3 linked regions of the Homo sapiens genome follow. The protein of the gene in region 3 interacts with the protein of the main gene of each other region in a pairwise test. Each region holds a gene or a part of one and is shown on either strand. Other genes may lie near its edges. The genes, in order: AMIGO1, SLC13A4 and SLC38A1.

Region 1 (3,750 bases), on a different chromosome or scaffold from region 3:
AAAACCATCATCTTTGTCCCCACCAGCCATAGGATCATGGTTGGGTGTGGTACTAAGCATGGAAGAGCTGAGGCTGTCTCCTTGATGGCTGGAAGGCTTCTCTACACCCCGGCACCAGCAGCGGCAAGGGGTGAGGTATAGGTATATGAGGACCAGGACCACACTAAGGATACAGCCCACTAGGGTGGTATAGGCTGTGTTGAGGGTGTCATGGTGTCCGTGCAAGGTGAAATTGTGCACTTTCAATTCCACAGACAGTGTCTCATTGAAAGTCTCTCCCATGGCATAGCAGGTATACACACCACCGTCCTCGACCTGCACCTGCTGGAAAAGAAGACTGCCATCCTTAGACACACTCACTGTGCCATTGGTCACCTCATCTAGCACCCGTTCATTACTTGGTGTCACCCACACCTTGGTCATCCCTTGCTGCTTGGTGTCACACTTGATGATCAAGGTGTCACCCAGGTGGGCCTCCCAGGCACGCTCCTTGTACTCGCCACAGTTGAGGAAACTCAGGTTGAAGACATTGTGCAGCTTCTTGGAGTTCATGCAGTACAGATCCTCTTGAAAGTCCATCACGGAGCTCAGCTGCCGATACTGCCAGTGTGAAAACAGCTGGTAGAGCTCACAGTCGCAGTTCAGGGGGTTGTTATGTAGGTACAGCCCATTCTTGATCCAGGCCGGCAGCTTCTGCAGGTCAGGCAATGGCAAGTTCTTCAGCTTGTTAGAAGAGAGATCCAGGAGCGTTAGTTTGGGTAGCTTGGCTCCTTCCTTGACCAGTTCCAGAGGGAAGCGAGAGATCTGGTTCTGGCTCAAGTAGAGTTTCTGCAGCTGGGCCATGTCATCGAAGGCGCACCGGTCCACCGCCATGATGTGGTTATTGTAGAGCAGCAGCACCTCCAGTACTTGCAGGTCACTGAACAGGAACTCATCCAGTGTACGCAGCTGGTTGGAGGAGAGGTCCAGGTAGCGCAGGTTGGGTACCGGGGAAAAGGCCTCAGAGGAGATGAAGTTCAGGTGGTTGTGGCTCAGCAGCAGGGAGTGCAGTTGGGTCAGGCGCGTGGGGGTCCACTCGGCCCGCAGGCGGCTCAGGTTGTTGTGACTGAGGTCCAGTAGTGCTGTGTAACTGGGCAAGGAATGGGGCACATTGGGCAGCTGCTGCTTGGAGCAGCTGAGGATGTTGCTGGCGCACAAGCAGGCGGCAGGACAGCTAACCACGGCTCGGCCAGCTCTGGCCACCTCAAAAAGCAGCAGGGACAAGGACGGCAGCAGGAGCCAGAGGCCTCTCGGGTCACGGTGGGGGTGCATAGTGTCACTGGAGTGGGCGAGGAAGGCCACAAGGAAGATCTGGGAGGAGGTCACCCGGGCATGTTCTGGTGGGGTACGGAAGGGTCACTTGAGAGAAAGAGGATGGGTTTGTGGTCACCAAGGACTCCAGAGGGAAGGACACCCTCTCCCACTTCCCCTCCCACCCTTACCTCCACCCCCTTTGGGCTAGGAGAGAGAGATGCTGGGTAGTTTCCAGGCACTGTGCAGGCAGTGGGCTGTAAATATCGGCCGAAGAGGAGGTGGCCCGAGGGCCTACTGGGCTGGGGTCACAGGGGTGCAGGCTGCAGGTATGCACAGGATGGCAGGGACTGCTGGGAGTCACAGGGATGGCACGGGCAGGGTTTGGAGGTGGGGTCGGTGTGCCTTTTGGGAGGAGCTGAGGGAAGGTCAACAGGGCACCGGGCTGGGTAGGACGCGTCCGGTCGGGGTTGAGGGTCCCCGGGGCCTGTAGGGGCGGGCTCCCCCCGGGGCCTCCGGTCACTGCACCTGCTCGGCGAGGACGTGTCTCAGCCCATGGCCGGTCTGGGAGCTCCGTCGCGGCCTCTCCCGGCGGCGCCTCACCGGCCGGCCTGTCACTGCGCCCACCTTACGCAGGGGCCCGCGCCCGGCACCGTCGCCTCCCGGGGACTTGCGGGGCCCCGCTCCGCTCACCCTGCCACCGCCTCGACCGCTGAGCCCGCCGGAGCCCACCGACCGCGGTCGCTGCCTCCAGGTCCGCAGGCCTGGCGCGGATCGGTGCGGGGAGCCGGAGGCGCAGCGATCCCAGCGGAGGGAGCGGCGTGGGGGCAGCGAGCACCGCGCGCGCGCCCGTCGCCGCCGCCGGAGCCTCGGGGCGCGTGCGCGCGGCGGGGGCGGGGCGCACGTGCGTGTGTTTGTGTCGGAGCCGGCCGGGCGGACGCGCGCGGGGTCGTTCCCTCAACCAGCGAGCTCCGGACGCTGAGCTAAAGACGAAAATTGGCAGGAAGAGCGGCACTGGCCCCTTAGGCTCCGCTATAACTTCCTCCATCCCCCATTCCCCCATCTCCCAGCACCCTTCTCGCTACACAGACCGGCTCTCAGGAAAAGTCTAACTAAAGTGAATTCGCTGCACCTACTCGGGCAAGAGGCGTCACATGTCTTTTAATTTCGCAAATTGAAGAAATCTGGCTCAGCTCCCGCCTGCCAATGTTGGCGGGAAATTCATTAGTCACATTCTGAGGTTCCCCCTCCCTTCTCTCTGTGGCTGTGGGGTCTCAAAAATTGGGGGAGGGGTTCCCCCCACCCCACCCCCGTCTTGATGCTACTAGTTCATGACCCTTGAGGTACCACTGAAGGGCACAGCTCCTTAGCCTGCAAGCCAGCTGCGCAGGAGTGAGGGGAAAGGGGGTGTTTGGTGAGCCCAGGCCCCAGAACACCCCTTTACAGACACCTCATGCACCTCTCCCCACTCCACCTGCTACACACACACACACACACACACACACACACACACACACACACACGGACTGCATACAAGCCAGGGACAATTTCCATTCCTGGAAACTCCGAAACCCTTCCCAGCCCGGAGGAAGTCATTCAGCCCTTAGGTCTGGCCACTTGCCTTCTTCCTAAACCAGTGCCAGCTCCCCACTCCCCTTATGGAGCAATTGCAACATAGTTTCTCTGTTACCTAATCCTCAAGATGAAGGCCAGTGGTGGAGGTGGAGGGGTTTCTTCTTTAGGGTGGCCCCTGAAACAACAAGAAGCTGTTACTAGTGTATGTTGTTTGGGTTTGGGGGTGAGGAAAGAGAGAGATGCAGGAAGAGCCTAGACCTTATCATTCAAGATGTTAGCTGTTCTTGAGATGGTGGACCATAAGAAATTACCTTTTTATTTGTTCCAGTCTCTTATAACAGCAAGATCAAGACTGAAATTAATGTCTCAGTAGATTAGCTTGCTAAGAGTTTTAAAAAGAATTTATATCTGTCACATGTTTTACCATGAATTTTAGTGAATATATTATCTCTTCAAGGAGTATTAGCGTGTTAATCTTATGCATAGTGTGAAAAGGTCTTTCTGCAAGGTGCAGTGGCTCACACCTGTAATCCCAGCACTTTGGGAGGCTGCGGCAGGAGGATTGCTTGAACCCAGGAGTTCGAGAGCAGCCTGGGCAACATGGTGAGACTCTGTCTCTTAAAAAAAAAAAAGGCATGGTGGCACGCACCTGTGGTGCCCACTACTTGAGAGGCTGAGGTCGGAGGATCACTTGAGCCCTGGAGGTCAAGGCTGCAGTGAGCCATGTTTGTGTCACTGCATTCCAGCCTGGGTGACAGAGCAAGATCCTGTCTCAAAAAAAAAAAAAAAAAAGAAAGAAAGAAAGAAAGAAAGAAAGAAAGAAAGAAAGAAAGAAAGAAAGAAAAAAGAGAAAGATGTTCTGTTCTGTTCATTTCAGGCATCATT
Region 2 (3,750 bases), on a different chromosome or scaffold from region 3:
CATAAAATAGAAAACAATCTTAAGAATGAATTAGGTTAAGGTTCAGACTATTTCTCCCTCCATCTCATCTACATGCATTATCCCATGCTAAACTTGGTTCTCTTTTTTTTTTTTTTTTTTTTTTTTTTTGAGACAGAGTCTCACTCTGTCACCTAGGCTGGAGTGCAGTGGCGCCATCTCTGCTCACTGCAACCCCTGCCTCCCAGGTTCAAGCAATTCTCATGCCTCAGCCTCCCAAATAGCTGGGATCACAAGCACACGCCACCACACCCAGCTTAATTTTTGTATTTTTAGTAGAGATGGAGTTTCACCATGTTGGCCAGGCTGGTCTTGAACTCCTGGCCTCAAGTGATCCACCCACCTTGGCCTCCCAAAGTACTGGGATTACAGGCATGAGCCACTGTGCCCGGCTTGGTTCACTTTTCATGGCCCAAAATACTATCTGCATTATTAATAATAAGGTCACAGAATACTCCACTAAGGAGAACCTTAGAAAACAATGAGTCCTATCTCCTGCCCATGGTGAGATTCCCCTCCATGGCACTTCTGGCTTGGACACTTCCAGTGACAAGGTACTCCCTGGGCAGGGAACAAAGAATAATTGTTCCTTATTTTCAGCTCAGGTCTTCTGCATGTTGTCTGTCCACTGTTGGCTCTAGCTCTGTTCTCTGGGACCCTCTCCTAGATAATAATTATTAACATGAAAAAATCAAGTAGTAGTGACCCATACCATCTGGTCTCTCTCCTCAGGACTCACTACACTTGGCCTTATTCAAACATAGTCTATGGGGTGGTCAGTCTACTGCCAAGTAGAGTAGTTATATTACCCAAGCCCCATCTCTCACCTCTGATTCAAGCAGCACCCTGCATTTTTATGGAAGCTTTTATAAAGCATCCTTGGCACTCATGTCAACAATTATATTAAAACTGCAGTCAATTAGAACCCTTCATTCTTTTTAACTGTTCATCATTACTGGACCTTCACCCCATCCTATATATATGCCATCAATATTTCTCATTCCAAGTTCGGGATATTTATATTTATCTTTATTGAATTTCAGTTGTTAGTTTTGGCCTCTGACAAGATTGGCCTGGCAAGATTTTATTTTTTTTTTTAACCAAAATTGGGCTGGGCACAGTGGCTCATGTCTGTAATCCCAGCACTTTGGGAGGCCATGGCGGGAGGATTGCTTGAGTCCAGGAGTTTGAGACTAGCCTGGGCAACATAGTAAGATCCTATCTCTACAAAAACAAAAGTTAGCCCAGTGTGGTGGTGCGTACCTGTAGTCCCAGCTACTCAGGAGGTTGAAGTGAGAGGATCGCTTGAGCCCAGGAGTTCAAAGCTGCAGTGAGCCAAGATCCCACCATTGCACTCCAGCCTGGGAGACAGAGGGAGACCCTATCCCCTGCCACCAAAACAAAAAACAAGAACAAAAACAAAAAAAAAACAATAAAAACAAAATTGTGCACATATTAGAGATAGTACAGTTATTTCTGTAAAGCCTACTGCCTCTACTAATTTTAATAATAATTTAGGTAGCATATATGTGATTCCTACAGAGTTTGAAATAATTTCAGTTTTGACATTAGTGAAGAAAATCCATTGTAAAATGTTTTCATACCAAGAGTTTAAAGAATTAAGACTTCCTTTGATTGTGTTTTTGTCTAACTTTGAAGTCTAATTTATTTCAAATCATAGTATAAAATAGTTCTGCTGGAAAAATAATTGCCAATAAATTATTTCACTTTACTAGGCCGGGCATGGTGACTCACGCCTGTAATCCCAGCACTTAAGGAGGGTGAGGCAGGAGGATCACTTGAGGCCAGGAGTTTGAGGCTAGCCTGGCCAACATGGTGAAACGTTGTCTCTACTAAAAATACAAAAATTAGTTAGGCGTGGTGGCGGACACTTTTAATCCCAGCTACTTGGGAGGCTGAGGCAGGAGAATCACTTGAACCCAGGAGGAGGAGGTTGCAGTGAGCCGAGATCGTGCCACTGCATTCCAGCCTGGGTGACAAAAGCAAAACTCCAGGGACTGGGCACAGTGGATCATGCCTGTAATCCCAGCACTTGGGGAGGCCAAGGTGGGTGGATCACCTGAGATCAGGAGTTTGAGACCAGCCTGGCCAACATGGTGAAACCTCGTCTCTACTAAAAATACAAAAATTAGCCGGGTGTGGTGGCACGCGCCTGTAATCCCAGCTACTTGGGAGGCTGAGGCCAGAGAATTGCTTGAACCTGGGAGGCAGAGGTTGTGGTGAGCCGAGATCGCACCACTGCACTCCAGCCTGGGCGACAGAGTGAGACTTCCTCTCAAAAAAAAAAAAAAATTTAGCCGGGGATGGTGGCACATGCCTGTAATCCCAGCTACCCAAGAGGCTGAGGCATGAGAATCATTTGGACCCGGGAGGCAGAGGTTGCAGTGAGCTGAGATGGTGCCACTGCACTCCAGCTTGGGTGACAGAGCACAACTCTGTCTCAAAAAGAAAAAAAAAATTATTTCACTTTACTTACCAGTACTATTTGGATAACGTTAAGTAAAACTCCATCTCTTTATATAATGTACCATTTCCATTCAACTAACTGCTGTTCCTCCCCTGCCTCTGTCCAATGAGCAAGGTTTAATGTGTTACCAGAGGGAACAATTAAAGAGTTCCTGGAGGCCTTGGGGCTCTGAAACAAGCATTAATTGATGCAGTCTGCACATATTGGGTTTGTAAGCTCTCAGTGAGTTGAGAGGAAAAAAAGGAAGAAAAGTTCTACAAGGTGAAGTGGCTACAACAGAGAGAATTCTGAAGGCCTTTGGTCCTCAGTTGTCTATGAGCTTGCCAGGAGGTGGCCAGGGTACTGTAGAGATGAAATGAGCTTTTGATGAATTTGGAAGAGAGGAGAAAAAGTAACATGCTGGCAGTGTAGGGAAGGCGGTATTTAATAGTAAAACATGTGTAGCAGGACTTAAGAGCTTGAGGAATCATAAATGTCTCACCTTCCTTTCTGTCCCTGCTCTCCATATTGTCATTGCATTCGCAGTTTCTAGGGTACCATGGGAAAAGGCAGAGCCTGTCACCATAGAAGAGAGAGAGGAAGGGAGGCAGGATGCATATGGCAACCTGGAGTTTTTAATACAAAACTCAATGATACCTTTCATTTTTTAGGAGAGGGAGGTAGCCCTCCCTATTTGCAGGTGAACATCTTCCAACCAAATGAATCATTCCAAGTGGGAATATTTATTCATTTATTTTTTATTTTTTTGAGACAGAGTCTCACTCTGTCACCCAGGCTGGAGTGCAATGGCACAATCTCGGTTCACTGCAACCTCTGCCTCCCGGGTTCAAGCAATTCTCCTGCCTCTGCCTCCTGAATAGCTGGGATTACAGGCGCGTGCCACCACACCTAGCTAATTTTTGTATTTTTAGTAAAGGTGGGCTTTCACCACATTGGCCAGGCTGGTCTCAAACTCCTGACTTCAAGTGACCTACCTTCCTCAGCCTCCTAAAGTGCTGGTATTACAGGTGTGAGCTACCTCACCCAGCCAGAATGTTCATTTATTTAAGTGGATGTGTGTAACTGTTGCTAGTGGAATAAATTCAGGACGGTCAATATGCCTTCATATCTGTGTCTTCAAAAAGCACTGGCAGGCCAGGTGCGGTGGCTCACACCTATAATCCCAGCACTTTGGGAGACCAACGTGGGAGAATCGCTTAAGCCCAGGTCTGTTTGAGACAGGCCTGGGCAACATGGAAAGACTC
Region 3 (3,750 bases):
TGCTCCAGGCTGCCCTTTTCTTGGGCCTGGGGGTGTTGTTCTCCTTGGTCAGCATTCCCTTGGTCATCTATGACTGGGCCTGCTCATCGAGTAGTGACGAAGGCCACTGAAACCCGCCGAGAAAAAGAAACATCCCTGTTGTCTGCTCAGTCAAGTCCCCACACATCAGCAATCTCTCACCACTTCTTTTGCAAGTTTACAGAAGCAAACAGAAATGTACAGGATACTTAAAATGGAATAACTTTTTGGTTGCAAAACAGAGACATGGTTCTATAATGCTTCATGTCCCTCCAAGATTTGAGATCAATTTAGGGATTGTGAAATTTTTTTTTCAAATTTCATACAATCATATTTCCCAGTACTTTTCACAATCATTTTTTACCCATCTAACTCTATGTTTTGTGGCTTCCCGGTCTCTTAGAACTTTGAAAACATGATATACAATAATGTTTATTTATTATACATCCAGATTCTGAAATAATTTTCCTACTGATGTTCAGCTCACACTATCTGTACCTTTTTAGAAGAGAAAAGAATCTTGAATTGTATATATTTATTTTGCTTTACAGAAAAAAATGGTTTCGTAAATAATTTGCCTATTTTGGTTAACATAGCACATGGAGATAATCATCTGAAAGTTATAGGGCACTGCCACTGCTGAATCAGAGCATGCCCAATATTTGAGGTGGCTCTGATTTCCTGGCAGCTGAACTCGGGTAGTCCAGTGGCCTAGCTGGTACCACATCTATTCCCATCCAGAGACATTCTCTGGCAAGTGTTCTCAGCTGAAAAGTGGTTGGGGATGATTCTTACCTTGGTAATTAAATGAAGCTACACATTTGGGTAATCTAGCAAATGAAGTATTTTTTCCCTCTTGGCAACTTGTGTCAGAGTTACTCTGGTCTGAGTCAACTTTCGCTGGGGAAAACCTATGGAACCTACTGCAAAAAGATTGTCCAAAATGCCTAAGAAAATACTCCTCTGATGCATTTAGCCTTCAACCCTACCTGTCTTGCTGAAGGGAGAAAAATGTTTTAGTACATTATAGGCCCAGCAGCTTTTATTCATGTCCACCAGCTAGTTGCACAGAGAATCATGTGTACCTAACTAAGGATGATCTAGGATAAGTAACTCCTGTTTTATATTGAGTATTTTAGGGAAGTCTTTAAAAGACTTGTTTTATATCTATAAATCTAGGTTATTACAAATACAAGAATTTTGTACCTTAAATAAGCCTCATTTCTATTTCTTCTTCATTAATTCTCCATCTAGTCTTGTGAAAAAAAAAAAAAAAAAACCCTCAGAGATAGTCTTTGTGAAGAGCTTCTGACAGAATCACTGAGTACCTTCCTTCCCCCAGATGAGGAAGACAAGGGGGTCTCAGTGTCTGTGCTGTCTCCTCTTCTCTTCCCCAACCAAGGACTGTGCCATTACTGCCCGTCTCAACTGTCCATGCAGGAGGACAGAGTTGCCTGGTACTCTTACCCTTGTCCCTCTCCTAAAGGGAGCACAAGGAAACTGAAGAGACTGAAAAAGAAGAGAGTTTGTAGCTGAAAAAGAATAGGGATAGCAAGGAAACCCAGAACTGCATTCCCCTAAGTGGGGCCATCCCATGTGATTGAATTGTCCATAGCTTGCCTATGGTGAGAAATGTGCATGCTCCGTGAGCTGGTCTCTTGAAACAGGACTTATGCTTCCTCTATATTCTGGTTAAATTTTCCAAACACATAAGTTCACTGAGCACAGATTTCTTATCCAGAGACAAGTAGAATCTAACCGCAGACTGTTGGCAGAGTTTCCAGGCACTTAGCCATGTTCCCTTCCTGACTCAAATCCCCAAAGGCCTTCACTCTCACTGAGAATCACACTACTGTCCCATAGATAAGGCAGGCATTGAAGCACCTGTCGTGATCCTCTAGGGGGGAGAATGAAAGGTTATTTCCTGCATTGCATCATCATAGCTTTTAATATAATGCTACAGAATCATATCCACATTAGGTTAGAGTTCAGATATTTGGATATGAATACCTAACCTAGCCATATCCATGGCCATCTCTGTTCTTTTCAGCAATGTTTTCCATATTATATTAGCAATGACAGAAACAGAACAAGCCAAGATCCAGTCAGTTCTTGGGAGCTTGTCTAGAGCACCAAGTAATGAAATAGCCAGGTAGTGGGATGACTGTACCTTTAAAAATACATAATTTAGTTTGCAAGCTATATTATGCTACTTTCTATTTTCCTTGTTACTTTATAGCAATTCATTTTACCCTCACAAAGTCAATTTAGAACCTTATCATTAACTGGGATGTGTAGTGATATTTTTGGGCCTCTGGGTTTCATGTGTCAATACAAGGAATATTTATTTAAAATAGATTTATTTAGAGGAGGCACAGTGTTGTTGATCTGTGTGACACCACCCATATTTTTAAAAACCTTTGTATGTTTCTCTAAATTTGTTGTTGACTGAATATAATAGACCCTACCATAATTCGTCAAATATCACTGATTAGTTACATCCTTTGTGTGAGATTAGCTGTAAAGTATACTGCTCTTATTCTTATTCAGAATAGTTAATTGGTAGCCAAAAATACATGTATCACAGATGTTAGGTCGAATTTAAACAGCACAGTCAAGTGCTATGGAAGTTTTTCTGCTAAATTAGTAGATTAAAGAATACTATACCCTAGGCATGGGGAGCAGCACGTTTTCCTTTGGTAGGTAGGATCTCTATACTAGTGAACAGTGCCAGTTCCACACTTTGGACTTAGAACTGTTCTCTAGTTATTGTAACACAGAATACTGTCAATCCCTAATTTACTTAATGTTACTTATTGGAAGTGGGGCTGATGAAATACGCACAGGAGGGAAATCTACTGTGTTTAGGCACAGGCAGCCCCAGTGTATAAGGAGATCATATTCCAAAAGGTTGTCAGTTGGTTGTTTGCAACCTGGAATGTATTTTCCTTTAGAGACCAGGTTATCCATGGTGGTTAGGCCCCTAGAGCAGCTGGAAAAGATGATCAAACCAATAGGTTAGCTGACATCGAATAATGTAATAGGTTTGCTAAAGAATCTAACCATCAAATATAATATTGTTTCCAGGGAGGGTGTTTGTTCAGAGTTGCCTGTTAGTAGAATCTGGACTGTCCATCCCAGCCACATCCCACCTACTGGACAGTAGGGGTAGAGATGCCACCAGACTACAGGTGACCAGATTGGCCTGAAACATGGTGTCCAGTAAAAACGGGGAGGAATAAGTCCATGACTGCTGGAGAGCTTGGTGGTAGGAGGAGGGTGAAGGAGGGTGAGGGGGCCTCTCATGGGTCAGAAACCTCCAGGGACATCCCTCAGCTGGTAACTCTGCTGTTGTCCGGAGGGTTCAGGCTTGGTGTGCCTTCTTCTGTTTGTCTGACTTTTGGCTCCTATGGTTCATCTCCTGCCCTGCCCACCACAGAAAAGGATGCTGCTGCATAGCTTCTCCAATGTACCAGTCATTGAGGCCAGCGCGCAGCACTTTTAATGTTTTTAGTGCTAGTAACTGTGTTTTAACTCTCCAGGAATAAGCTGGGAGGTTAGAAAACAAGAAAAAAGGGGGAAAAAAAAACCTCTCCACCCACTTTCCTTTTTTACAGTTACAGACCCTGTTGAGAAAAAGAAGCACCCAGATGGGTGATGGTGATAGGGCTTGTGGTGGACACAGGGTTGTGGTAAGATTCCTCAGTGCTTCGGCGAGCACCTAAGACTATT

What was found.
Region 1: the proteins of SLC38A1 (region 3) and AMIGO1 interact in binary tests that used the Homo sapiens proteins (3 or more experiments, as listed by UniProt).
Region 2: the proteins of SLC38A1 (region 3) and SLC13A4 interact in binary tests that used the Homo sapiens proteins (3 or more experiments, as listed by UniProt).

Annotation. Positions count from the first base shown.
Region 1 is NC_000001.11:109,507,602-109,511,351, forward strand, and holds the start of AMIGO1 (amphoterin-induced protein 1 precursor), read right to left. Parts: upstream 2,127-3,750; 5' UTR 1,819-2,126; intron 1,399-1,818; 5' UTR 1,312-1,398; coding exon 1-1,311. UniProt on the Homo sapiens protein: Promotes growth and fasciculation of neurites from cultured hippocampal neurons. May be involved in fasciculation as well as myelination of developing neural axons. May have a role in regeneration as well as neural plasticity in the adult nervous system.
Region 2 is NC_000007.14:135,686,560-135,690,309, reverse strand, and holds part of SLC13A4 (solute carrier family 13 member 4), read left to right. Parts: intron 1-1,281; exon of another isoform or gene 1,282-1,406; intron 1,407-2,987; exon of another isoform or gene 2,988-3,299; intron 3,300-3,750. UniProt on the Homo sapiens protein: Sodium:sulfate symporter that mediates sulfate reabsorption in the high endothelial venules (HEV).
Region 3 is NC_000012.12:46,185,330-46,189,079, reverse strand, and holds part of SLC38A1 (sodium-coupled neutral amino acid symporter 1), read left to right. Parts: intron 1-8; coding exon 9-110; 3' UTR 111-3,750. UniProt on the Homo sapiens protein: Symporter that cotransports short-chain neutral amino acids and sodium ions from the extraccellular to the intracellular side of the cell membrane. The transport is elctrogenic, pH dependent and driven by the Na(+) electrochemical gradient.